Homo sapiens: one gene and its partners. The protein of the gene in region 3 purifies or fractionates together with the protein of the main gene of each other region. This does not show direct contact. Each region holds a gene or a part of one and is shown on either strand. Other genes may lie near its edges.

What was found.
Region 1: the proteins of ST8SIA4 (region 3) and FREM2 purify together in Homo sapiens (affinity purification with mass spectrometry; 2 studies listed by BioGRID and IntAct, with this or other methods). This does not show direct contact.
Region 2: the proteins of ST8SIA4 (region 3) and GALNT18 purify together in Homo sapiens (affinity purification with mass spectrometry; 2 studies listed by BioGRID and IntAct, with this or other methods). This does not show direct contact.
Region 4: the proteins of ST8SIA4 (region 3) and OAF purify together in Homo sapiens (affinity purification with mass spectrometry; 2 studies listed by BioGRID and IntAct, with this or other methods). This does not show direct contact.

Annotation. Positions count from the first base shown.
Region 1 is NC_000013.11:38,858,070-38,865,107, reverse strand, and holds part of FREM2 (FRAS1-related extracellular matrix protein 2 precursor), read right to left. Parts: intron 5,822-7,038; coding exon 5,518-5,821; intron 3,678-5,517; coding exon 3,546-3,677; intron 834-3,545; coding exon 502-833; intron 1-501. UniProt on the Homo sapiens protein: Extracellular matrix protein required for maintenance of the integrity of the skin epithelium and for maintenance of renal epithelia. Required for epidermal adhesion. Involved in the development of eyelids and the anterior segment of the eyeballs.
Region 2 is NC_000011.10:11,373,976-11,381,013, forward strand, and holds part of GALNT18 (polypeptide N-acetylgalactosaminyltransferase 18), read right to left. Parts: intron 5,290-7,038; coding exon 5,106-5,289; intron 3,405-5,105; coding exon 3,207-3,404; intron 1-3,206. UniProt on the Homo sapiens protein: Catalyzes the initial reaction in O-linked oligosaccharide biosynthesis, the transfer of an N-acetyl-D-galactosamine (GalNAc) residue from UDP-GalNAc to a serine or threonine residue on the protein receptor.
Region 3 is NC_000005.10:100,806,430-100,809,317, reverse strand, and holds the end of ST8SIA4 (CMP-N-acetylneuraminate-poly-alpha-2,8-sialyltransferase isoform a precursor), read left to right. Parts: 3' UTR 1-2,385; downstream 2,386-2,888. UniProt on the Homo sapiens protein: Catalyzes the transfer of a sialic acid from a CMP-linked sialic acid donor onto a terminal alpha-2,3-, alpha-2,6-, or alpha-2,8-linked sialic acid of an N-linked glycan protein acceptor through alpha-2,8-linkages.
Region 4 is NC_000011.10:120,206,655-120,214,061, reverse strand, and holds the start of OAF (out at first protein homolog precursor), read right to left. Parts: upstream 3,031-7,407; 5' UTR 2,783-3,030; coding exon 2,552-2,782; intron 1-2,551.

The DNA of each region.
Region 1 (7,038 bases), on a different chromosome or scaffold from region 3:
GAAGGAGAGTAAAACAGGAGGCTAAAAGCAGAGAAAGTTTTGTAAAATGTAGGGGAAGAAGAAAGTCAGAAAAGAGGGAGAAAAATTAGGCTGACTCCCAGGATTGTAAAACCTCACTTTAGGTGGCTCATGATACAACATCACAGGCATCTACACATAAACACAAAAACAACATAGTGTATACTTTGAAGAGAAGTCAGTATTTGGATTTTTATAATATCAGAGTAGATTTTGAGCTTAAGGCAATAATTATACAGCATCCTTTTCACATAGATATAATGTTTCTAGCCCATTGTCAAAAACTACGTATATTCTGGCCCATTGTTAAGAAATAGACACGGATTTTCACACCATCCATGCCAGTTGTCTGGTCCCTTGCTGTCAATAATTACCTACAACACCAAGATGGAAAACTGGAGTTGGGACTTAGTACAAATCTATGTGACAAAACAAACCAATTGGTTTATCCAGTGACCAAACTCAGATGTTATAAATCTGTACCTGTCCATCTGTTCCAATGGTGCCACCACAGTCAGCAAGGAGTTCTGACATGTCATAGTAGCTAACGAACTCCCATAAACAGGCCTCTAGGTTCAGGTTCCGGTAGAAGCGCAAGGTAGTGGAACCTCTGATGGACAAGCTGTACTGGTAAGGATATGTCTCTCCAATTATTTCTGGATTTTTGGTAGCATCAGTCAAGAAACCATAATGAGTCTTCACTTCAGTATAATCCAGGAGGTTGGAGCACTTGTGGTTTCCAACTCTTGTGCCATCAGGGCTGAGGGTGAGCTCAAAGTTGGAAAGCTCTCTAGTGGAGATCACGGGGAGCATGCCTATGATAAATCGAAATCATTGTTAACAGTCTTTCAAGTAGCCAAGAATTTTGAACACTTTAAAACTTCTTTATCTCTTAAGAAAACAAGTGTCATAAAATGCCATACAGCAGTGGTGTATGGCATACAGATCAAAGTGGTGTCCAGGCCCGGTGACGTGGCTCATGCCTGTAATCCCGGCACTTTGGGAGGTCTAGGTGGGTGGATCATCTGAGGTCAGGAGTTCAAGACCAGCCTGGCCAACATGATGAAACCCTGTCTCTACCAAAATTACAATAGCTGGGCATGGTGGCGGGTGCCTGTAATCCCAGCTACTTGGGAGGCTGAGGCAGGAGAATTGCTTGAACCCGGAAGGCAGAGGTTGCAGTGAGCTGAGATCGCACCACTGCACTCCAGCCTGGACATCAAAGGTGAAACTCCACCTCAAAAAAAACCCCTACAAAAAACAAAAAAATAAAAAAGTGGTATACTAAGAACCCTGGGGTTCCCCAGGAAAATTTCAAGAGATCCATGACTTAATCGCTATTTTCACAATGATAGTAAGTTATTATTTGACTTTGCCACCCATATTCTCTCACAAATGCAGTTTTTCAGAGACTACAAGATATGATAAATTGCAACAGATTGAATGCAGAAGCAGAGAATCCAGTTATCTTCTATTAAGTCAGACATTAATGATATCTTCAAGAATATAAAAGTGCCACTCATCATTTTTTTGTTTTATAACATAGTTTTTTAAAGGATGTATTTCATGTTAATATGTAATGTATTTCTTTTTGTAATTTTTAAATAAGTGAATAAATAACAATTCCTCAGTTTTAATTTAAAATCCAATAAATATTTATAGATATCACCCACATAAACAAAATCTCTTTGAGATCTTCAATAATTTCTAAGATGTCCTGGATCATAAATGTTGAAAACTGGCCATGCGTGGTGGCTCACATCTGTAATCCCAGCACTTTGGGAGGCCAAGGCAGGTGGATCACTTGAGGTCAGGAGTTTGAGACCAGCCTGACCAACATGGCGAAACCCCGTCTCTACTAAAAATGCAAAAATTAGCCAGGCATGGTGATGCACGCCTGTAATTCCAGCTACTTAGGAGGCTGAGGCATGAGAATCGCTTGAACCCGGGAGGTGGAGGTTGCAGTGAGCTGAGATCGCGCTACTGCACTCCAGCCTGGGTAACAGAGTGAGACTCTGCCTCAAAAAAAAAATTTTTATAAAGTTGAAAACTACCACCATTAAAAAGTACAGGCTAAGGACTGAAAATTTGTTCCATAAAGGGTCAAATAGTAAATATTTTAGCATTGTGGTCCCTGAGGTCTCTGTTGACTGTTCAATGCTGCCATCAGAGTGAAAGCCACTACTATGTGAAAGAAGAAACAGAACTGTGTGCAACAAAACTTTATCATGGGCAATGGATTTGAATTCCATACCATCTTTATGTCTCAAAAGTAGACTTCTTTTTTTTTCCCCAAACATTTAAAAATATAAAACCTATTCCTAGCTTGCAGACCATATGAAAACAGGCAGCAGACTGTATTTGGCCACAGGACATAGTGTGTTGAGCCCTGGCATAAGCAATACAGCAAAAGACTATGAACCAGTTCTTCTCTTTGAGCCTTTCACACCTCTTCCTCTCAGATTCACTCAGAGCAAAACTCCGGCCCCACAGAAGAAGTGGTCAGCCTCAACTACACTTCTGGCAGAACTGTGGCTATTGAACATTGAACAGTGCATTCAGAAAACGCAAAGCCAAGCCCTAGGAGTGGCAGAAGAGACCACTCTTTCTTTTAGGAAATAACTCTTATAGGTCTGTGTTTCCCTGATGGGTCCCTTCTCAGCCCTTTGCAGCTCAAGTCACACCTCCACATGGACCTACAGACTGGGTGGTTCAGGGACCAACATTATGCTATAAAGGAAGGAATGCAGATTCCTGACCACCTGCCCTTCCAATCCCCAGAAAAATCTCAGGTTGTAATAGGAAGACATAGCAGATGTTCTTGTTCTGGGGGAGGTAGATTCTACGTTGCAGCTCCTAATCGTATTTCCTCTCCCTTAGCTACATAAAATATAACTAACATATCAAGTAATTTTATTAACAATTTGCTATAAGTATAAAGTGATTTGAGTGGAAAATAACTTGAAAATGCCTTCCGCACATGGTAAAATATTCATAAAGTATGATAAAGTTATTGATGCACACATTCTGGTCATGGCTACCTAGCCAGAGAAAATAGACACAATATTTAATACCTGTTAGTTTCATTTTTTATTTTATTTAAATATCTTGGAAATGTCTTACAGTTACATGATAAATATTGAGAGAGACATAAAACTCCAGCTATAAAACTGCAACACATGTTGAAGGTAGGTACTAAGATATCAAATACTTTACTGTAACTTCAAGTTTACGATTGAAGATGCATTTGTACTCTTTCATAAAAGCTAGACTAGGTACCAAAGTTTTGTTTTATCGTGTCTGGATATGTATTACATCTACCTAATTTTAACGAATGCTTACACTGCCATAGTTATAAAAACAGGGTAGAACAAAGCTAAAACAGTTGAAAGAAGTGGAAGGACTTGAAGCTCAAGTTGCAAATTGAACGTTTATTTAAGCTTGGTTATTTAGAAGATGAAGGAAAATACAACAGGTAATGAGGAGTCCAAAACAATTCCATGGATTTGCTTACCCAAGTCACCTACCATCTATGTGTGGCATTGTGACAGTGAGCTTGATAAGGTTTGTGTAGTCTGCATCCTCAGGGCCTGTGTAGCGCAATTTAGCTGAGAACGGCTCTGCTCCAACAACCCCAGGTACACGGGGCTGACAAAGACCTTGAAAAAAAAAAAGACCATATTTATGCGAAAAGAAGGTAATCAATAATACCTAAAGAATGTTTTAGAAAATAGGAGCTATTATTTTTCTGTGTACTTTCAACTTCTCTGTGGAGTAGGGCATGGCTAAGAGTGTACATCACGTGATAAGGAATTAGAAGTCCACAGGGTGAGAAGTAATCACAGCAGACAGTTAGTGGCCACTTGACAATTTATGGATTGTTCAAACTTTGAGAAAAAATTTGTTACCATTCAATGTAACTTAATGTGTGCTGGTTATTCTAGGTCATGGTCATATTCACAAAATCATTTAAATATAAAGTATGAACAGATACAGTAAAAATGACTGAAAGTCAGTAGGATAAAAGTAAGTGTAGTTAAACCAAGTAAATGTTATTTTTACTCTAGAATAATATACTTATCATTAGTTATGTTTACATTACTTATAAGTGAATAAAACTAAAACTGTGCTCATTTTAGGAACAAAAACTAAAGTCTCCTTAAAAATCAGAGAGCAAAATATGTACAGTAGAGTTTTCTCTATAGATGTAATTTTTTACAGTATGTGTATTATACATTATAATCCATTTTATATTCATCTCTTTCTGTCTCATATCTCCCAGTGACCTTCAAGAATTTGGACATGAAACTCTTTCTCCAGTATTTCCTTTAGGAAAATAGTGGGGTTTCTATTTGAACATCATGAAAGGAACCAAGACGCTGAATTATAATTTCAGGAGAACTTGGAAAGATACAATTACTTATCTATTTGTATAAAACAGAGAAAATAGACAAATATGTATTAGAATAGCAAGGAAATCAGAGTCAGGCCCCAGCATAGAGGCTGTCTGATTTATTAAAAGAGAGAATCATTTTAAGGCATTATTTAAATATTTGATCCTGAATATATAGTAGTCACAGGTGGGACATATGACCTCTATGCAGTAAATTTACTTTTGAATGCGGTGTGCAAATAGATGATTTAGAAATAGAATCAAATATATACAACCGTTTTTAAGAAAAATCTCATTAAAAATTATTCTGCAGAGTGAAGGATTTATTTATACAGTGGATTTCCTGTCTTTCCAATGTTGTCCCCAGCCACATCCTATTCTCCATCCCCAATGTGTCTTTGCTCCAGCCTTAAATACAGTCTCTCTTGTAATACCAAGGTGTTAATTTGCACGTACCCCTCTATCTGGACTGCCCTTCCCCTCCCGTCCCCAGCAAAATCCTACTCACCCAACAACCAGCTGGTTTCCTTGCATGGCATGAGCTCTGTTCAGATCTGAGCCTTGCATACCATTTTGCCTTGTCTCCTGGTTTTTCCTCCTCTCCCTCTCAGAAGCTTCCCCATTTCTCTGCTTGCCATTCCCACAATATCCCGCATTCTTTCTTGCTTTTATGAGTTGTTGCTCATGCTTGTTTTCCTCTACTCTTTTCAGATTCAGCTTGAGCCTCCCCTCTTTGATAAGCCTTTCCTGACCCACTCAGGGTAAAACTAATCACTTCTACCTGTGCATTCCTGTGCCCTGTCTAGACTAAAATGTGTCTGCATCTTCAACTGGACCAAGAATTCCTCAAAAGCAGGGATCCTGTCTTCTTTATTTTATTGCCAGCACAAAGCATTGTGTCTGGCATATAATAGATACTTAAAGGTAGAATGAATAAATATTTTGTTTTCTAATACATAATTTTGTAAAAATAGATTTTAATTTTTCACTACTTACAAAATATATGGAATATGTGGGACATTGGAAGTATTAATAACCAGAAAGTAGACATTTGTAATATTGCACAGTATTCCAGTGATCTTCAGGGGAAAATGGCAATGACTGACCTTCTTCTCTGCTGATGGTTACAATAGGGCTCATGAGCTCCAGGCCTTCATCCCCATTGGTGTTCACAGCACGAGCTGCGCACTGTACCCGGGAGCCAGGCTGAAAGTATATGGAGTCCAGTGTGACCATCTTGGATGACGTAAAAAAGGTGTCGAAGTCCACTTCTCTCATAGGGCTGGTCACACCGTCAGGGCCCGCAGGTGCACTAATCAGCCACCGGTACCGCGTCAAAGTGTCATTGATGTTCTCACTTGCACAGATAGAGCCTGTTTTATCGTAGTCTGAATATTTGGGGTTGCAAGCCTACGGAAAACAAATGACTGTGTTAGGAACAGAGTGTAGAACAGGTGGAACGCATTCTTCTCCCGTTCTCTGCCATCGAGTTTTCACTGCTGCTTTCCCCAATTTCCACATGCTGTTTATACAGCTTCCGAATTTTGATCCCCAGGCATGATAACATTTATAAACATAATCTTGCATTTCAAACAGCTTATTGGATGTTTCTATTTCTAACTTAATATGTGTAAAATTGTTATTTATACCATAATCTCTTGAATCATCAGATTTGCCAGTTATCCTTATTCTCTCTTTTTTCCTCCCCCGCTTCCTGTCGCTCATCTTACCCCCCTTATCCAGTAAGTCATGAACTCGGCTGATTCTTCTTTAACAGTATTGCTTAAGTTGATGCCTTCCTTTCCATTTCCAGCAGCACTTCTCTGTCTAATTCAGCATCTTTTCTTCCAGTCCACTGACACACGACTGCCCTGTTAACCTGCCAGTTTAACCCCTCTGATCATTCTTCCATGTGAGAACTCTTCGCTACCCAACAAATGAAGTCCAAATTTCTTAATATGACATTTAAAACTCCCTATACTTTGACGCCAAATTATCTCTGCCTTGTTGACTCAATAAACATGTATTGTATAAGTGATTTTAGAAGTGCTGTTGTAATATAAACATAAGTAAGTCATAATTTTAGCTCACAAGGAGCTTAAACTTAGAGTCAAGAAAAGGCAAATTTTGAAAGTAGTGATAATTTGCTATTTCTTATGCTATTTTTTTCTAGCTGTAGCTCACGTTGCAGTCCCTTCTTCCTAGAATGACCTTCCCTTATCAGACTTGCATCCTAAAGAGTCAAAATTCCACCTGACCATCCCAAACCTCCCCTCATATATGGAGCTGCAGCTCTGACTTCTAATTTGTATCATTTTCATGATAGTGGTTATATCTTGCCTTATATTAGAGTTACCAATTCCTATATTCTTTTCTTCATCTCTAAATATCTTGAATGCAGACTTCATATCTTATTTATTTTTCTATTGGTGACAGACTGAGATAACACACTATGTACACATCAGTTAATGAACCTTTGTTCGGTGAAGAAAGAAAAATGGGAGCTTTATTTGATTAGTGTTATATATGCAAAGCTCAAGGCTTAAACCATGTAGTATTTTTCTACTTTCATTTCTTCATAACAAAGCCAATGCTATATTGATTATAATTATTTGAAATAATTATCT
Region 2 (7,038 bases), on a different chromosome or scaffold from region 3:
AAGGTGGAGAAAGGCGATTTTGCAGGTCATTTCCCTGGGGAATGCAGATACAGGAGACTTCTGGGGCAGAGACTGACACCCTGGAGCCACTGTTTCTCTTCCTTTCAAATCACTGCATTTTATTCTAAATGGCTTCACCCTCACAGACCTGCAGGCATCCTGGGAAGCTAATCCACCACTCCTAAAGCAGACTGAGACCCTGCTGTGGTGGAGGTAACTGAACCCAGGCCTTCGAGGTAGTCTCTCTGGGAAAAATCCCCCTTCCGGATGCATGTCTCTAAGAGAAGTTCCCTAGCCTCTCTGAGCCTCCGATTCCATATCTGTAACATAGGATCTATTCTAACCTCACACGGACTAAATTAAAGCACTTGAGAGCCTCTGGGACATAACTGGCACTCAAAAGGCCATTTAAAAAGGTAAAAAGATGCAATTGTGCACTAAGTCTAGAAGATCCTCTCTTTAAATACGTGATGATTCAGAAACATCAGGCTGGCAGAGTGGGGCCTTGGCATTTGCCTCTGCATTCCTAGTGTTGGACAGGGCAGGGCACGCTGGAAAAATGCTTTCAGGACACACAGGAAGGGACCTTCCTCAAACTGACAGTTCAAGCCAGGTAATGAACAGAATCTGAAACAGTTACTCTGAGATGAGCACAGGCCACCTCAGTGGTTTATTATTAACCGGCTAGGGTATTAAGTGGATTCTATCAGCATGAAAGAGTTATCGATTTACACCTTGCCTCATTCCTGAAAGGATTAGAAATAGCTTATGAGAAAATTTAAAATACATAGAGAACCATAAATAGATAAATGTCTGGACAGACCTAAAGATTGCAACAAATTGGAATGCATGTGCAGAACCAAGGTCCTCTCTCAATTGTTCTTAAAGCAGACATGAAAGCTTGCCTTTGAGTTTCCTGTTGGTCAAAGTGGAAATGAACACACATGGTCTTAGAAACAAAATGTACAGTTCTCATGTGAAAATGTCATATTAATTGATTCCCTGGGGATAGCAAGTCTTTCTTTGACTGGCAGTCAGTTTGAAAGAAATTTCTCACGTGGATTTTCTTAATGGGGTCACCTGGCGACTTAGGGAACAGCGATCACAAAGACATCCCTTTAGAATACACCAGAAGATATTGCTGGGCTCTTTTTATGACTTACACCATGTGTGGGCAAAGCACTCAAGTATAGCTTGAAAGAAAAGGGAGCTCGGATGGGCAAGATACATTTGTATAAATCACAGCTTTCTGTGGAGCTGTCTTCATCTGGGAATAAAACCAGGAATGTTCTTCCAAAAATCTTCCATAGAAGTTATTTCCCTCAACCAAGTTTTTGATAAAAATTGGGTGATAGAAAATTTGAGGTTGAGATGACATTGTCTGGCAAGGACCTGGAATGCAGGCTTGCTGATTGAGACTGGACCAGTACAGTTAGAGATGAGCAGAACAGAAACAGTTACTGTCAATGCAGTCTTCTGCAGGAATGCTCATTGCATGGGGGCATATTTCCTTCCAACAGCATTCATCAGGCCTGGGAGCAGAAAACAGCTACACCAGTTCTGAGCTCAACAGTGGACAATAAGAGGGGTGAAAACTAGCCACTGAGTCTAGCTTCTCTGGGTGGATCCTGGCTCTACCGCCCAGAGCCTTTGGCAGGGCCATTCACCTCTCTCAGTCTTGCTCTCCTCCTCTTGTAAAACAGGGATGAGACATGAGCGGTCAACAGGTTGCGATGATGATCAAATGAGCCAATGCGTGTAAAAGACCCTTGTACATAGCAGACTGTCAGCAAATGTTTAACAACACAAAATTGTGGCAGGGGCCGAGCAGAGTAGGTATCAGGTAACTTCAGGAAAGTTAGGTGGTTTTATCCCGTTTTAAGTATGAGTATACATTTTTTCTTCTGGCAAGGAAAAATGTGATCTTAAGTAATAATCCCTGACTTTCAATTAAATTTTTCATACCCTTTCTCCCTAATATAATATAAAACAACATGAGCTTCTAATCTCTTGCACTCCAAAAACTGTACCCTAGGCCACCTTCTGGTGCCTTCTGTTTTATAACGGGCAGGACTTCGCAGGGAACATAAAGACACCCACCGTATCATCAATATAGACAGAAATAGGCCAGGCGCAGTGGCTCATGCCTGTAATCCCAGCACTTTGGGAGGCCGAGGCGGGTAGATCACGAGGTCAGGAGTTCAAGACCAGCCTGGCCAACATGATGAAACCCTGTCCCTAGTAAAAAATACAAAAATCAGCCAGGTGCAGTGGCAGGTGCCTGTTATCCCACCTACTTGGGAGGCTGAGGCAGGAGAATCACTTGAACCCAGGGGCCAGAGGTTTCATTGAGCCGAGATCACGCCATTGCCCTCCAGCCTGGGTGACAGAGTGAGACTCCGTCTCAAAAACAAAAACAAACACAGACAGAAATAAAAACTAGTGGGGACAGCTTTTGGAGGAGTCCTGAACCTTAAAAGCCGAGACCACACAAGGGAGTCATTCATGAGTCTAGGAAGATGGCAGCAAAGGCAGGAAAGAACTTGGGACCTTTGAAATGCAGTATGAAGTCACTTTTGTCTGAGTCTTACAGAATAACACTCAAATATCATCAAGGTATACACTGTCCTGTGGGGTCCGATCTTGCCTCTCAGCCCCTCCACCCCTACTGCCGGGGGCTGCTGGCTCACTTCCCACTTCTAGTGACTTTGAACCTTCTCTGTGTTCATGAACTTTGCATATGGGTGTCCATTCCCCAACCTAGCCATCTTCTACTCGCCTTCAAAAACAAGTGAAAATGCTGCCCTCTGAAAAGCATTTCCCCGCTTTCAATGCAGTTTCTGCCTGCATGGTAGAATAATGTTCCTATTCCAATGATTTTGTCTGTCTTCACTAGACTCCAGGCTTTTGGCAGTGGGAACCAAATCTTCATCACTCCGGATCCCCAACCTGGAGCACAGTGGTTGGCGCCCAGCAGACGTCTCACAGTGATGTGTGAAAATGGGTCACTTTGAGGCTGTGAATGGATTCTGAGATCTTCAGAGCCTGTGGCAGTGACTGAAGATCAGACTGCAGTTCCTTTCGACCCTGCCCACCCCTGTCATCCCCACGATGGGGCTCAAGTTGGAGAATAAGCATTGGACCAGTAGGCGGTCCCTAGCCTGGAGGTCAAAGCGGAGAGACCCACAGGTAAAGGTTTGCTTTACCTGATTGGCGCTGTGGAGTTCTCCAGCTTCCACCAGGCCTTGGGGGGATTTAGGTAGCGGCACCACAGCTCCCAGTCAAAGCCCTGGGCAGCCAGCGGGTACTCTTCTATCTCAAAGTTGTCATATTTGATGTTATCAAAGGATGGCGAGATGATCCGCTTCCGGTTCTCCTTGATGCGGGTGAGTACAGGTTCAGCCCTGGGCAGAGAGGAGACAGCCAGAGAGGGTAACCATTTCCAAGGTGGAAAAATCCAGAGTAGCATCTCCTGAAGGTCCTTCCCCAGCAGAAAGAGGAAGGAAGGCCTGCCCATCTCCTCTGATGGAGAGGTGCACTGCCTTCTGGGAAGGAGCTCCTATTCAACTTCCCGCTCCCTGAGGATTGCCGGAATGGCAAGAGGCTGCACCACTCCATTGGCATATCCAGAGCTGAGCTGAGAGATTCTTATTCCAGCCAACCTTGTGCCTGCTCGCTTTCCCTTTCTCCATTAGAAAAAAAAAAAATCAAGACTCAAAAAAGAAGAAAAAGAAGAAAGAAACAGATCTGAGGCTCCAGAAAAAGCTTTCACCTTGGGCTTTGATTTTGCTAAAATTCTATGTGTCAACCTGGAGGAAAAGACAGATGAGGATGGCAGAGACTAGGAGCTGAGAACAAACCTACATCCACCAGCCATGCGATGTTGCCCTGGAATGCCAGCTGTGCCACATCCACCCCCCAAAGCGTTTCCCAACCACCCAAGGAGGGGTGGGGCATTTGGGCTTTCCCAGGGAGCTGGGAGACCCTTGAAGGCACCAGGCGAGTAAAGTGTTTGCAGGCAGGAATAAGCTTCTCATTAATAATACATTTGGTGCATAATTGTTTATTCAAATCAGCTTGAAATAGTAAGTGTCCCTCTCCTATCCTGGCCATAAATCCAAAGAAAATGCTGTTTAAATAGTCACAAGTGGCAAGCAGGGACTTCAACTATAAAAAATGGCTGTGTTGCAGCCTTCATTTGGGCCTGTTATGGCAGCATCCAGGCCAGGCTGTGTGCACGCCCTGCTGCTCCTTCCTGCTGAAGTGCCCTTGTCTCCCACTCCCCGGGGGCACAGGTTGGCACTGTGGAGTCTGGGGAGGAGAGCAGACCCCAGTGACAACAGGCATATTGATAAAAGGGTGGCCACCTACTTGCCCCAGCTACTTATGGTCATTGCCAGAGCCTGTGTCTCCCAGGCCCAGGCAAAGTTACACACAGCAGGTGGCCCTGTGCCCTCCAGCCCTGCAGGGAGGTCTGCATCCGCCACTCTATTCCTGGCTGGCTGCAGCCACTTGGGCCTTCTGTCTGGTCCCTTTCCCCCCAGCATCTGAGCAGCTCTGACCAGAGAAAGAAAGATGTTCTTAGACAGTTTCACCATAGGGAGAATCTGAGATTACGTGCTACCTCCAATCTGGCAGTGGGAAAGCCCAGGGCACCTGTGACAACATGGGGCAAGCTTCCCCCACCTTTGCCCACTTGCTGTTGGCCCTGGCTGTGAGGCTGGGCTTCTGCCTCACGTCTGGCCCAGCTCTCCTTTCCTAGGTGTGGGAACCCTGTCCTTAGCGGGACACTCTCTGCTTTGCCCTTGGCATGTACCCTTCTCCCTGATGACCCTGCCAGCCAGAGTCACATGTGATGTCACCATGCATATTAGGCACCGTGTGCTGACCTGTTGACCCCTGGCTACCCCCTCCCCTCTACCACACCTCGAACCCTAAAGGTCCAGCCTTGTTGCCTGGCTCACTCACACACCTACATCTCACCTATTCCCAGAATTACCTCTTTTCCCTTAGGCTATGACCAAGATCCTAGCATGCTTTGCACTATTGGAGCTGAAGCCCCAGATCCCACTGGGACTCCTCCTCCTCTCCCAAGGGGCACTTACCAGCCCACATTGAACTCCACGTGGGCATCAAAGAGTGCCACCACAGGGGCAGTGGCCGCCCTCCAGCCACTGACCCTGGAGCGGATGAGGCCTTCCTGCTTGCTGTGACGCACGACTTTGATGAAGCCTGGCTTCTGGCTGTTCACCTTGTCCACATATTCGGTCAGCTTCTCCTTCAGTTCCTCTGTCAGGGAGAAAATGCAGCCTTAGCATGGGAGGGAGGTCAGGAGGCAGAGGGGGCAATCACAACAGTCACTCTTTTAGTGATGACCCCCAGAGAAAGGCTGGGGGACCCATTCCCCTCCCTGGGTCTTCTTCAGTGGTCCCCACAGTGGCCAGCACAGGTCAGTTTTGAAGGGAAAAATAGAGGGGAATATTTCCTGTATTTTCAGTATTTTCTGAGGTCCAGCAATGCACAGGGTCATATACACCACAAACAAGGTCTATTTAATCTTCACAACAAGCCAATAGGAAAATGGTAGCTCAAAAGATTTTATCAAGTTCTCCAGCATCATGCAGCTTGTGAGTGGCACAGTCCACTTTCAAACCAGGCCTAGTGACCTGAAAAGCCATCATCAGCACGGCTACCTCCTTCCTATTGGTCTCCATCTCCATCGGTGCTCCTATAACCCCCAGGGGAAGATCCCTCTGCCAAGACCCCAGCCCAGGATCCGCTCTCTGCCTGGATCTCCATCTTTCCAGGAAGTGGATGGCCAGGAGCTGTGCCCATGTGAGTAGCTGGTGTTGGTTTGCTGCCTGTGGTCCTGGACCTGGCTAAGCATTTGATGCCTCTGCTTCTTCATAACTGTAAATGGGGCCTGCAGCAACAGAAACAGGCCTCAGCAGCAGCCCCCTGAACCCTCAGCAAGAGAGGGCACAGCCACTGCATTCATTACCTTTTTCATAGCAGCTAAGGCAAGAGCCCATGACAGCCCTCACAGTTGGTTGGACAGGATTCTAAAGTTCCTTTTGAACCAAGCATCCATCCCAAGGTGTGAATTCCCTCTGTCTGCCCTGATGAGTGATCATGCAGCCCCTGCAGTAAAAGGGAAATCCATGCAATCCATTCCTTAGAGGGCCTCTTCAACTATTAGATGTTCTTCCTTCTTCTGACCTCCAAATGCCAGGGTCCCTCAATCTTACATTCATGAGTCCAATGGGACCTATTTTGGAGCCATAGAAGACAGATCAAGTCCCACTTTCCACATAACAACTGAAGCCCATTCTTAAGTCCTTGCTAAGGACTTCTCTAGGTCAAATATCTTCAGTTCTTCCTTGTGTTTCCGCATATTTCATGATTTCAAATTCTCTAATCATGTTGAACTTCCCTCTAATTAAGTTAGTTTTTCTTGAACCCTTTCATATTATGCAGAAGTTGACCTAATACTTCTAAAGTAAACTGGGCTATACAGAATAGAAGAAATAAATCACCTCCCTTAATCTAGAATCTATGCTCCTATTAATATAATCTAAAGTCACAACAACTTTGATTGCTTTTGTCTCAAATTAAGCTTACTGCTAACATATACTTACAAATTATTTTTACATGGTGCTACTAAGTCAGGCCTCCTCCATCCCATCTCTGTGGATGCGGGTGCATGTGCAGGTGCTTGTGTGTGTGTGCACACATGGGTGCCTGCTCTGAGTCAAAACAAAGAATCTTATGTTTACTTTTATTTAATCAGCCTTTCTAAAGATTTCCACTATTTCTTTGGAGGTCAAAGTGTTTTTGTCCCCTGATTTCATTACCCAATGTCTTTCTTATCCAGCCCTTCTAGGTTTCCAGCTTCTGCAAAAGTGATGAGCATATGGCCTTTCTTGTCATTCAAGTGATCCTTTTAAACAGTGTGACCCCTGTCCTAAGCTAGGGCTGGTGGGGGCTGTCAGTGTCCTCATTCCAGCCTGGAGAAAACTCGACTGACTTCTGGGCTGC
Region 3 (2,888 bases):
CCACCACACTCGGCTAATTTTGTGTTTTTAGTAGAGACAAAGTTTCACCATGTTGGCCAGGCTGGTCTTGAACTTCCTGACCTCAGGTTATCCACCCACCTCAGCCTCCCAAAGTGCTGGGATTACAGGTGTGAGCCACCGCAGCCGGACCATTTTTAGTATATTTTCAGTAAATACATTTAAACAATGTTAAGGCCACAGCACACATATCTCAGCCATTCATTGTTCTGTGCATTGATGTTTATCTCATAGATGCATTGAGTAGTGCCTTTTTAGCTTTTTCACATTACTTTGTCACCATATCCTTTGTGTTCTCTAAATACATTGCCCACTTCCAAAAATGTTCAGCATGAAAAAAAGGGCTTCAGTGTCGATTGAGATTGCTTTTGTTCATCTCAGGGATTTCAATAGTCAAGAATGAATTCAGTTAAAGGTATTTAGGGTTCAAAGAAGACAAACTGTACAAGCCCATTTCATTCCTTGTTGTATACCTTTCCATCTGCCCTCCCATTTTAACTATCTACTGTGGCCTTTTTATGGAAACAGAGCAAGATCAATGAAGGCTAATGGCAAGAATAAGAAAAAGAGTTGAGATTTAACCAATAGCGGAGCATAAAGGATCATGACAAAATCAAATTATAAAAGCATACTTGAAATAGGTGGAGCTTTTTCTTTTGAAAATATATATTCACAATTTTAATATTTTAATTTATTTTTTACTATTTAACCCTGTACTTGGCAATGCTCAGGCAGCTGATTGTGAAATATTCTTGTCCTTTACAGAACATGGTTGTTATTGTGCTGTTGACATGAATAGACCATGGAAACATTTTCATCATTATTATTCAGCCTGTGCTGTAGTTAATGTTAAGTTGCTGAAATAAAAAGTGAGCAAGTAATAGATTTTCTTGGCAAATCTAATGATTCAGCCCACAGGACTGTTGAAACTACTGCGGAAGTTTTTCTATCTGAAAGAAGGTGCTGGGCATTCAAATGTGTTCATGTATTGTATATCATATGAATTGTATATCAATTACTAATGGGAATTTCTACATATATGCTTACAAAAGCAATTTATTTAAGTAATGCTAGGGGTAGTGTACATACCAATTAGTTATTCAGCTACTATACAGAAAAAGGATGAACAAATTAATTTATTTCTAATTGAGCCAGTTAGACATAATGCATATAACGTGATATTTGGTTCATGAAAGAGTTGTTTTCATGTGGTTATTGTAGGGAGTATATATAATTGTGGAAGGGGTATGGGAAGAGTTGTGTATAGTTAGTTGTTATCTCTACAAGTTTGAAAGTTTTCCCATCAAACATTATCAATATACCAATGTTTTAAAAATTGAGTGAGGGTTATTATTTGTATTTGATGAAAGAAAATCCAAATAAAGCCCACCTAGAAATAGATATTTTATTATATATGTGCTATAGATATACCTATATAGTACAAATAGACATGTGTGATGCATATATACAATGTTATATATGTGTATATGTCTGTATACACACTGAGTCTGTAATATGTATACACTAAATTTGTGTTATGCTAACATCTTCAGGGTCTGCACTGTGAACTCCCCTGGAGATAAGTAAGTCCACTTTAGAATAAAGAAGTTCTTTTGAGACTTCAGTTACTAACGTGCTTTAAGAGGTATCTACTTTATAACTGAATTCTATGTCGTTCATACGTAGAGTTACAGTAAGGGTCTAGTATGTCCAAATCTTAATAATAAAGAAGAAAAGTAAAGGCTTCAAGCTAGCAATGTATTCGAATTACAGTTTTCAGATTGTGGCTCCAGGCCTTGTGTTTCTCATTTAAGTAGCACCTTTTAATAAAAACCGTTTCTTTGTGTAGGCAAAAGCACAAGTGTTTCAAATGTAAATAGCAGGAAAAAAAAAGAGTTTACAGAGATAGCATTGCTGCACAGAATAATTGCTACTGAGTATTTCTTATAGAATTTGTGGAACTGAAAGATGAGGTTTATTCTGTCAAGTTCAAGTTCATTCTGTTCAACACTGTTTTCTTATTGTTTGTGTATAGCAACCGGGTATTATTGTTTTATCATTTGTAAAATTGTAAAATAAATTAATCCCTTTTTTTCACTGTTTCTCTTATCTCATATATCCAAGCCCTTGGTTATACTTTGTATGTCAATGTTAGGTGATCATTTTTAACAAGCTTTGGCTTGTGCTTTGCTTTTCCACTCCCCTTAGCCCTAGTGGTTGGCAATTAGGCAAACCATTTATTTTTAAGTGTATACATGGGAATATGAACAATGTCAAAAACCCCATGAATATTAGGAAATCCTTAACGATATTTTGTGTAGCACATTCTGTTTGCGGTTGAGGGAATAAAGTATTTCACAAGTGACAGTCATTTATATCCATTTTATACTCCCACTGACTAATGTTAGTGGGTTGTTTTAGCTACAATGACTTCATACACACTGCACATTCTATGGCAGATTTTTGATTTAGTATTTTGACTGCTATTTGATCCACTTAATACTGTTTGTGATTTGCCTTCCAGAGATGATTCTGAAAAACTACACGCTTAAATCTTCTTCCATGGCTTTCTATAACTTGCAAGTCTGTTTTCAGACTCTGTATTGATTTCTGCAGAAATGTTTAACTGTAGCATTCTGCAATTTTGAAACATTTACTGGAGACCACCAATGAAGCACTGACAATAACTAATACATATAGATGTTATTTATATTTGCATAATTACCTTTTTTTCAAAGATTCATATACAACAGGTTATTCTTAGCTACTTTGGGGGGTATAATCAGATCTCATCATGTGGAACTCCATTTTTGATGTTATGGAAGAGCTTTCAGGATTGTAATACGAGTTTTGATGCCTGAAGCAATTTT
Region 4 (7,407 bases), on a different chromosome or scaffold from region 3:
AAAAGCGTGACTTCCCAGGCTGGAGTGCAGTAGTACAATTGCAGCTCAGTGCAGCCTCAGCTCCTGGGCTCAAGTGGTTTTCCTGCCTCAGCCTCCTTGAATAGCTGGGACTACAAGGCACACACCAGCGTGCTCCGCTAATTTTTAAATTTTTTGTAGAGACAGGGGTCTCGTTTGGCCTGAAGATTTCATATTCCTGGTTTCAAGCGATAAGCCTGCCTCAGCCTCCCCAAATCCTGGGATTACAGATGTGAGCCACCACACCGAGCCGAAGTCTTTTTCTTATAGGAAAAATCATTCCTTCTAGACCAAACTTTCTTATGGAAATCTGACAAACACTATGAGGCATGGGGCCTTGAGAACTGAGAGGTGACCCACCCTAGAAGGATCTGGACATAGAAGCTGCTGTGGCCAGTGCAGGCAGTGAGTGAGTGGCCTGGGTGAGGGTAAGGCTATTCTCCCCCACACTGCACTCTCCAACTCCACCCCGTCCTAGGCCAATGGAGAAACCTGGAGTTAAAGGGACTTGGGAAAGCTGGTTTCCTTTCGGTGTCTTCCACTCCCAATTCCCTCCCTTGCTGATGAAATTGGAGATGCCAGAGGTGGGTATGAAATGGTAGCTTCTGGGTCAGAGGCTAACCTGAAAATCAGACTTTAGAAACCTGGGTGGAGGTCTGAACCACTGTAGAGATTCAAATGAGGTGCTCACAATCTCCAGATGCATTTTCTAACTGGGCAGTCAGATGACCAGCATACCCTCACTCCAATCCCCAGCACCCCACCCCCGCCATCAGCCACTACTGCCAGCACATCACAGCTACCTGGGTACTTCTTAGCCTCTCCCTTCAGATCACAGCAATAAAAACCTTCCAGATGTAGCTAAAGGCTATAAAAGCTCAGCCCTACCCATTGCCTTTCACTGTCCTGGCCACAGCCAGGGAAGTCTCTCTGCAGGATTCTAGTGCAGCCACAAGATGACATCCAGTGGGCAGGGGGTTGGGAGCCTCACAGCCTGGCCTAAGGCTAACTTTCAAGGACAAAGGGCTTGGACAGAAGATTAGATCCCCGATTCCTGATGGATCCAGCCACTAACATAGATTTTTCAGGAACAGAACACACTTGATAAAATTCTCCTAGGGTTTAGGTGGGGAGGCAGGGTGCCTAGCTTAGGCCTGCGGAGTAAGGATGGGCTACAAAGTCTTCCCATTTGTGAACGCTCACTACCCCACCCCCCATCTGCCTGCTTATGTCCAATGTCAGTGCCAACTCCGTGGCCCTGGGGCAATCAGCGGTCAAGCCTCACCCCCCAACCCCACCCACCTCTAGCGGTCAAGCCTAACCCCTCACCCCTGCTAACTATGGCAATCTGGCTGGGTCCCTAACTGACTTCCCAAACTCCGCCACCTCTCCTCTAAAGCGCCCTGTCTCTACGAGGGAGGAAAGACAGGCAGCTTCAGCAAGGGTCCCCGGGGCCCCGGGCTCCCCCAGCTATCTAATCGGCTTCACCCCTGCACTCCCCCAGGGACAGAGCCTCACAGGGCCTCTCTTTAGCTGGGGGAAGGAGACAGAACGCTCCTTTTGAATACCTAAGACTTACCCACCCTCTTTTCCTCCAGCTTTCCTGCTGCTGGGTCACTGTTAGTCACTCACCATCCAGGCCCATTTCCTGATAATCCCCCAGCCCCCTGGGTGCAAGGCCCTTCTTATTCCCTCCAACACAGACACACACACACCAAGAGCGGGCTGGTCTCTAACTCCCAAACCGTAATCTGGGACACACACCCACACACCCACACCCACCCACCCACCCACCCACCGGGCTGGTCTCTAACTCCCTAACCCTAATCTGGGCCAAAATAGGGGGGTTGGCTCGCTTCTCTGCCAGGCAGAGTGAAGGGCAGCACTTCTCCCAGAGGGAGGGGGCCTCAGCTGGGGTCTCTCTCCAGGATCCTCCTGCTGCAAGCGCCCCAGCCTTCCAGACCAAAGAGGAGACAGGGCTTCTCCCGGCTTGAGAGGGACCAGGGGCAACCAGCTCTCCCCAGAAAAGTGAAACAGAGGGAGAGGTGACAGAGGGACTCCAAAATGTCAGGGCTGGGAGGCCTCGCAGACCCCTCAGTGCCCTGTACAGGGGTGAGAAGCCAGGCCCATAGGAGGAAAGAGGCTTGCTTGCTCTAGATCACACAGGGAGAACCCACAGTGAGAGCCCACAGCGAGAACACTTCGCCTAGGACTTTCCCACTAGAGCACAGGGGAATGACTCCAAGAAGGGAGTCCAGTCGTTAGTAGGAGTTCTGGAGGAGGGTTAGCACCTGGGGGGCTCTGGGAGCGCTGGAGGAGGGAGTGAGAAAGGGAAGCAGAGGGGTTCTTTGGAGAGAATGAAGGGGTGGGCCCTGGGGAGTGGGCAAAGAGGTGTAGAGAAGAGCCCGGCGTGACCTTGGGCCAGCTGCGTCTCCCTCCTGGGCCCGTCTTTCCGTCTGCAGGCAAGAGAGCGCCTGGGATCCCGGGGGGCTCAGGCTTGAAGGTGCCACCCCGGCGAGTGAGGGCGCCTCACCTTCTTGAAGTCGGCGGTGAAGGAGACGAGGGTGCCGTCGGGCTTGCGCAGCTCGAGGCTGATGCTGTCCGCGTCGCTGTCCGCCTGCAGGCTCTCCTCGGTCACCTGGCCGTCCGGCAGCCGCACGCGGACCCGCAGCTCGGCCGGCGCACCCGTTCCCAGCAGCGGCGCGAGCAGCGGCAGCAGCAGCAGCAGCGCAGGGCGCGCCAGGGGTACCCCGGGAAGGCGCATCCCCGGGGGCCGCTGCCGTCCGCGGCCCCGGCGCGCCGCGTGGGGGCGGGGAGAGGCGCAGGCAAACTTCGCCCAAAGTTGGGGGCTAGTTCGGGGCGCCCGGGAGCCGCTCCGCCGGGGGCCTTGGCCGCGGGGTCGCCCGCGAGGTGGCGCGGACGCACGTGGGTAGCGCTCAGCAGGGCGCCCCCGGCGGCCCCGAGGCGGAGACGGCGCTGCCCCGGCCCGGCTCCGCGGCCCCGGGCTCCAGCGCTGCGAGCCTGTGTTTTGCACTTTTCATTCAATCCCACCCCCCGTCACTTCCTTCAGAAAACAGAAACCACCAGGACCCGCCTTAAAGAGACCGCGCACCTCGCGGCCCTTAAAGGGCCCGCGGCTGCTCTCCGCACTTCGGCGTTGGCCGGGCAGGGGGCGGGGAGAGGGGGCAGCGGCTCCGCGGCTTTGTGCGAGCGGCCTCCTCGACCTCCCTCCCGCCCGGCCGCGCGGAGTCAGCGACCCAGGCGGAGTCAGAAGTTTGCTCTCCCGGGGCAAATCCCTTCCTTCCAGCAGGGGCAGGACGGGTGACTCTTCCCCCGCCCTGCACCGCCACCCCCCCCCCCCGCTTTTTTTTTTTTGGCTTGCTTTTGTGCCACGTGGATGAAATAATCGGGCTTGGATTTTTAGGGGTTTTGTTTGGTCTTTCAGTTTCTCTGACAGCGAATTTCTAAAAAGCTTCTGCAAAATCAGACCTCGCTTTGCACTCTGCCTTTTCCCTGCCCCACACTGGGAGGGTGGATCGGGGGTTCTCGCCCAGCTTTGCCACGGCCAGGTGTTAGACCTTGATGGGTCAGGTCACCCACTGGGACGCGGCCCTCAGGTTTTGTGAGCCCCTGTGCCTCTTTCCTTTTCAGTCCTGCCTCCCGTGCTTCCCGCATTCACGGCCTTTCCTCAGTCCTGCCCACCACCGCAGACCCGGTTCTTTCTCTCTATTATAGACTATGAAAATCCAGGGAAATGTTGGATTCCAGGTCACTTGGGAGAATTTCCAGGGACTCGGGACGCTGGCGCTCCACGACAGTGGCTTTCCCACAAGCCACAAGGAAACATGCGTGCCCTGCGGTGCACCCCAACAATAAGAAGGGTGAAGACCAGGAGATCTGGATTGCTGCCTCCTCTGATTAGTTGTGGAATTTAGGCACGTTTTAAAAATTCTTTGGGCTTAAGTGTCCCCGTGTGTATCGTGGAAGCTGCTCAGACCTACACTGTCCTGCCAGTCCCAGGCAAGGGAAAAAGCCCCACGAAGATGCTCAAAACCAATTGTTCCCTGACTTCCATTTTCACTTCTGTTGGGACCTTGATTACTGATGGGTGAAAACTCCCTTCTCTGCAGCCTCCTTCCCTTCTAGGGCTTCCCCAGCACAGGGCCATGTGAACTGCAGGGTCCGGCTAGAATCGGCCTCTTGCTATCATCCAGGGGCCCTTCCCGCTACCCGCTCTCTGCTGCCTAGATTTAGGACTGAAGGGAATTTAAGAGACTACCAAGTCAGCCTTTTCCAAATTTGCCTTTCCTGAAGAATCACCTGGATGCTTGTTAGAAAATAGATTCCCGAATCCCTAAACCCATGGAATCAGATTCTAGGGAAAAGAACTGAGGATTAGCATTTTTGACAAGGCCCACATGATGCTCGACATAAGTGGTTGACAGCAGGTATTTGGCAGATGTTTAAGCATAGAGCGTCTGGGCCAGACGCGGTGGCTCATGCCTGTAATCCTAGCACTTTGGGAGGCCGAGGCGGGCGGATTGCCTGAGCTCAGGAGTTCGAGACCAACCTGGGCAACAAGGTGAAATCCCGTCTCTACTAAAATACAAAAGAAATTAGCTGGGTGTGGCGGCGTGCGCCTGTAATCCCAGCTACTCGGGAGGCTGGGGTAGGAGAATTGCTTGAACCCAGGAGGCAGAAGTTGCAGCGAGCCAAAATTGCGCCACTGCACTCCAGCCTGGGTGACAGAGGAAGACTCCGTCTCTACAAAACAAAACAAAACAAAACAAAACAAAAACATAGAGCATCTGAAACAAGCAGCATCCTTCCTGGAGAACCTGGCTCCTAAGGAGTTCATCTTCACATCCGGGAGATAAGGCAGGCTGTTAGGGAATAATTGGATTAGCACAAGGATTGCTCCCCTAAGGACTCCCACTCTTAGCTGGCAACCGTTTAGACTAGAGATGCCCAGGGTCTTGAAATTGGCCTCCCGCCTGACAGGATGCTGGATCTCCATGCGGCCTTGAAGCTAGGTCTCCCACATGAGTCAGCCCACACAGTCATTAAGGGCCTCGCCCACATTTCCTAACTTCCCTTGTTTCAGGTCCTGTCCCCATCCGCCACCAGCTCTGCCCTCAGCCATTTCCCAGGCTCTTACCCCTTCTCCTCCCACAACAGCCCAGAAGTGGGCAAAGAAGCCCTGGATGTCAGATTTCTTGTTTAGGTCCCTGAGGTTTGTCTCTGTTCACATTTTGGGTTTGGAAACAAGGATGGAAGACCTCATCTCTTTCCCACCTCTTCCCCATAGTCAACTTCCTTCTCTACTTCAACCACAGATCAAACCAGATTTTTCTTTGAAAGTGATAGGGCATTTGAAATCTCACTCCATTACATAAGCCCTGCCTACCTACATCTCTATGCCTTGCTATTGATTTCACCTGACCACCTCTTCAAGCTCCAGGACAAAACTCAGGTTTCCCAGGAAGACTTTCTCGACTCCCCACCGACCTAGCCCTCTGTTCTGTGCCACTGTCTCCGGCCTCTGGACTCCAACAATAGTCATTATTATAGCAGCTCCTCCCCCATTGTATTTTGATTATGTCCAGGTTCTGTGCCAAGCATTTTACATGGATCATCTTATTTAATTTTCATGGCATCCCTCCAAAGTAGGTTCTATTCTTAGGCTCTTTTTACTGACTAGGAAACCAAAGCTTAGAGAGGTTAGGCAACATACCCAAGGTCACAAAAGCAGTAGAGCCAGCCGGGACTCAAACACAAGTCTGCCCGCCTGACCACAAAGCCCTTGCTTTGAACCACAGTAGCCTCTGCCTGTCGGTAGCCCTCACTTTCTGCCAGTCCCACTCGGGGCTCACATCCTGCGCTATCTTCTCCTGTTATCTAACGGTTTCGCGTGTGGCAATCCTGTATCCCCAGTGAAGCCGTCAGCTAGTTCAAACAGGCCAGCCCCGTGCTGGGAACAGACAGCGTTTCCCTCAAACCATCCGGGCATAGAAGCATCCATTCATCTTAAATGTAAAGGCCGTCAGAGGAAGAGCTCTAACAAGCCTAATTACTCCGACTACAACCAAACAGCCCTCATTGTCAGAGAGTTCTTCATGTCTCATCGCAAGACCTCTGCCACACCATAAACCAATTTCCTTTTTTTTCTCATCTCTAGCCCTTGGAAAGCAGTAGCCAGTAGTGGTTCAGAAAATGGGCATCAGGATCTCAGTCCTGGAGCTCGGCCCCAGTCATGAGCTGTGCGTCAGTGAGCCTGTTTCTTCAACTGTAAAATGGGCGCATACGTTTCTCCCTCACTGGGTTGCTTTGAAAATTAAATGAAACATTGTGCATAAAATATTTCGCAACATGTTTGGCATATAGTACAGATCCAATAAATGGTGGCTGTTATCCTTTAATTCTGTTTATTCTTTCCCATTGTATCACATACTAAATCTCTGATTATACAAGTCTCTCCCTCTCACCCCCTGCCACATGTATACGCGTGCATGTACACATATTCTTTCAGAAACATTTTTTTGGCTGGGCGCGGTGGCTCACACCTGTAATCCCAACACTTTGGGATGCCGAGGCGGGTGGATCACCTGAGGTCAGTAGTTCGAGACCAGCCTGGCCAACATGGCAAAACCCGTCTCTACTAAAATACAAAAATTAGCCGGGTGTGGTGGTGGGCGCCTGTAATCCCAGCTACTCCGGCGACTGAGGCACGAGAATCGCTTGAACCCAGGAGGCAGAGGCTGCAGTGAGCTGAGATCGTGCCACTGCATTCCAGCCTGGGTAACAGAGCGAGTTGGTCTCAAAGAAAAAAATAAATACATAAAAAAGAAATATTTCTTCCTCTCTATCCTCTTTAGGTGTCTAAGTTTTCTGTGTCTTGAGACCTCCGAAACTGAGAAATGGATAGCAGCAAAACCTCGGGAGGCACTTTCCCTTTGCTTTTTGGTCTGAGTGTGCCTTAATTTGGGAGGAAGAGAAACACCAAACCATCTCCCAATCTGTGCCCAAGAAAACAGGTGCTGACAAGACCCTGCAGGAGGTGGAAAGGGAAACTGAACCAATGACCTTTACCGAGAGACAGGGAGAGAACCACCAGGTGCTTGTCTTTGCAAGACTGGAAAGATTTTTTTCTTCCCATGACTTTCTGTGAGTGGCTGTTTGGTTTGGGTTAGGTTACAGCCCCTTTGTCTCTGGGCCTTTGCAGATAGAGTGGAGGATTTGCGATTTGAGTTTGAGGGAGAACCAGGGATGGAGTGAGGGATCCCCTCTGCTTCTCAATGTCAATTGCAAAGCTCCAGACACTTCATTGCCAGCACAGAAGTACAAATTAGCTTTCCGCCATCACACAATTATGCAGTTCCATCCATCAAG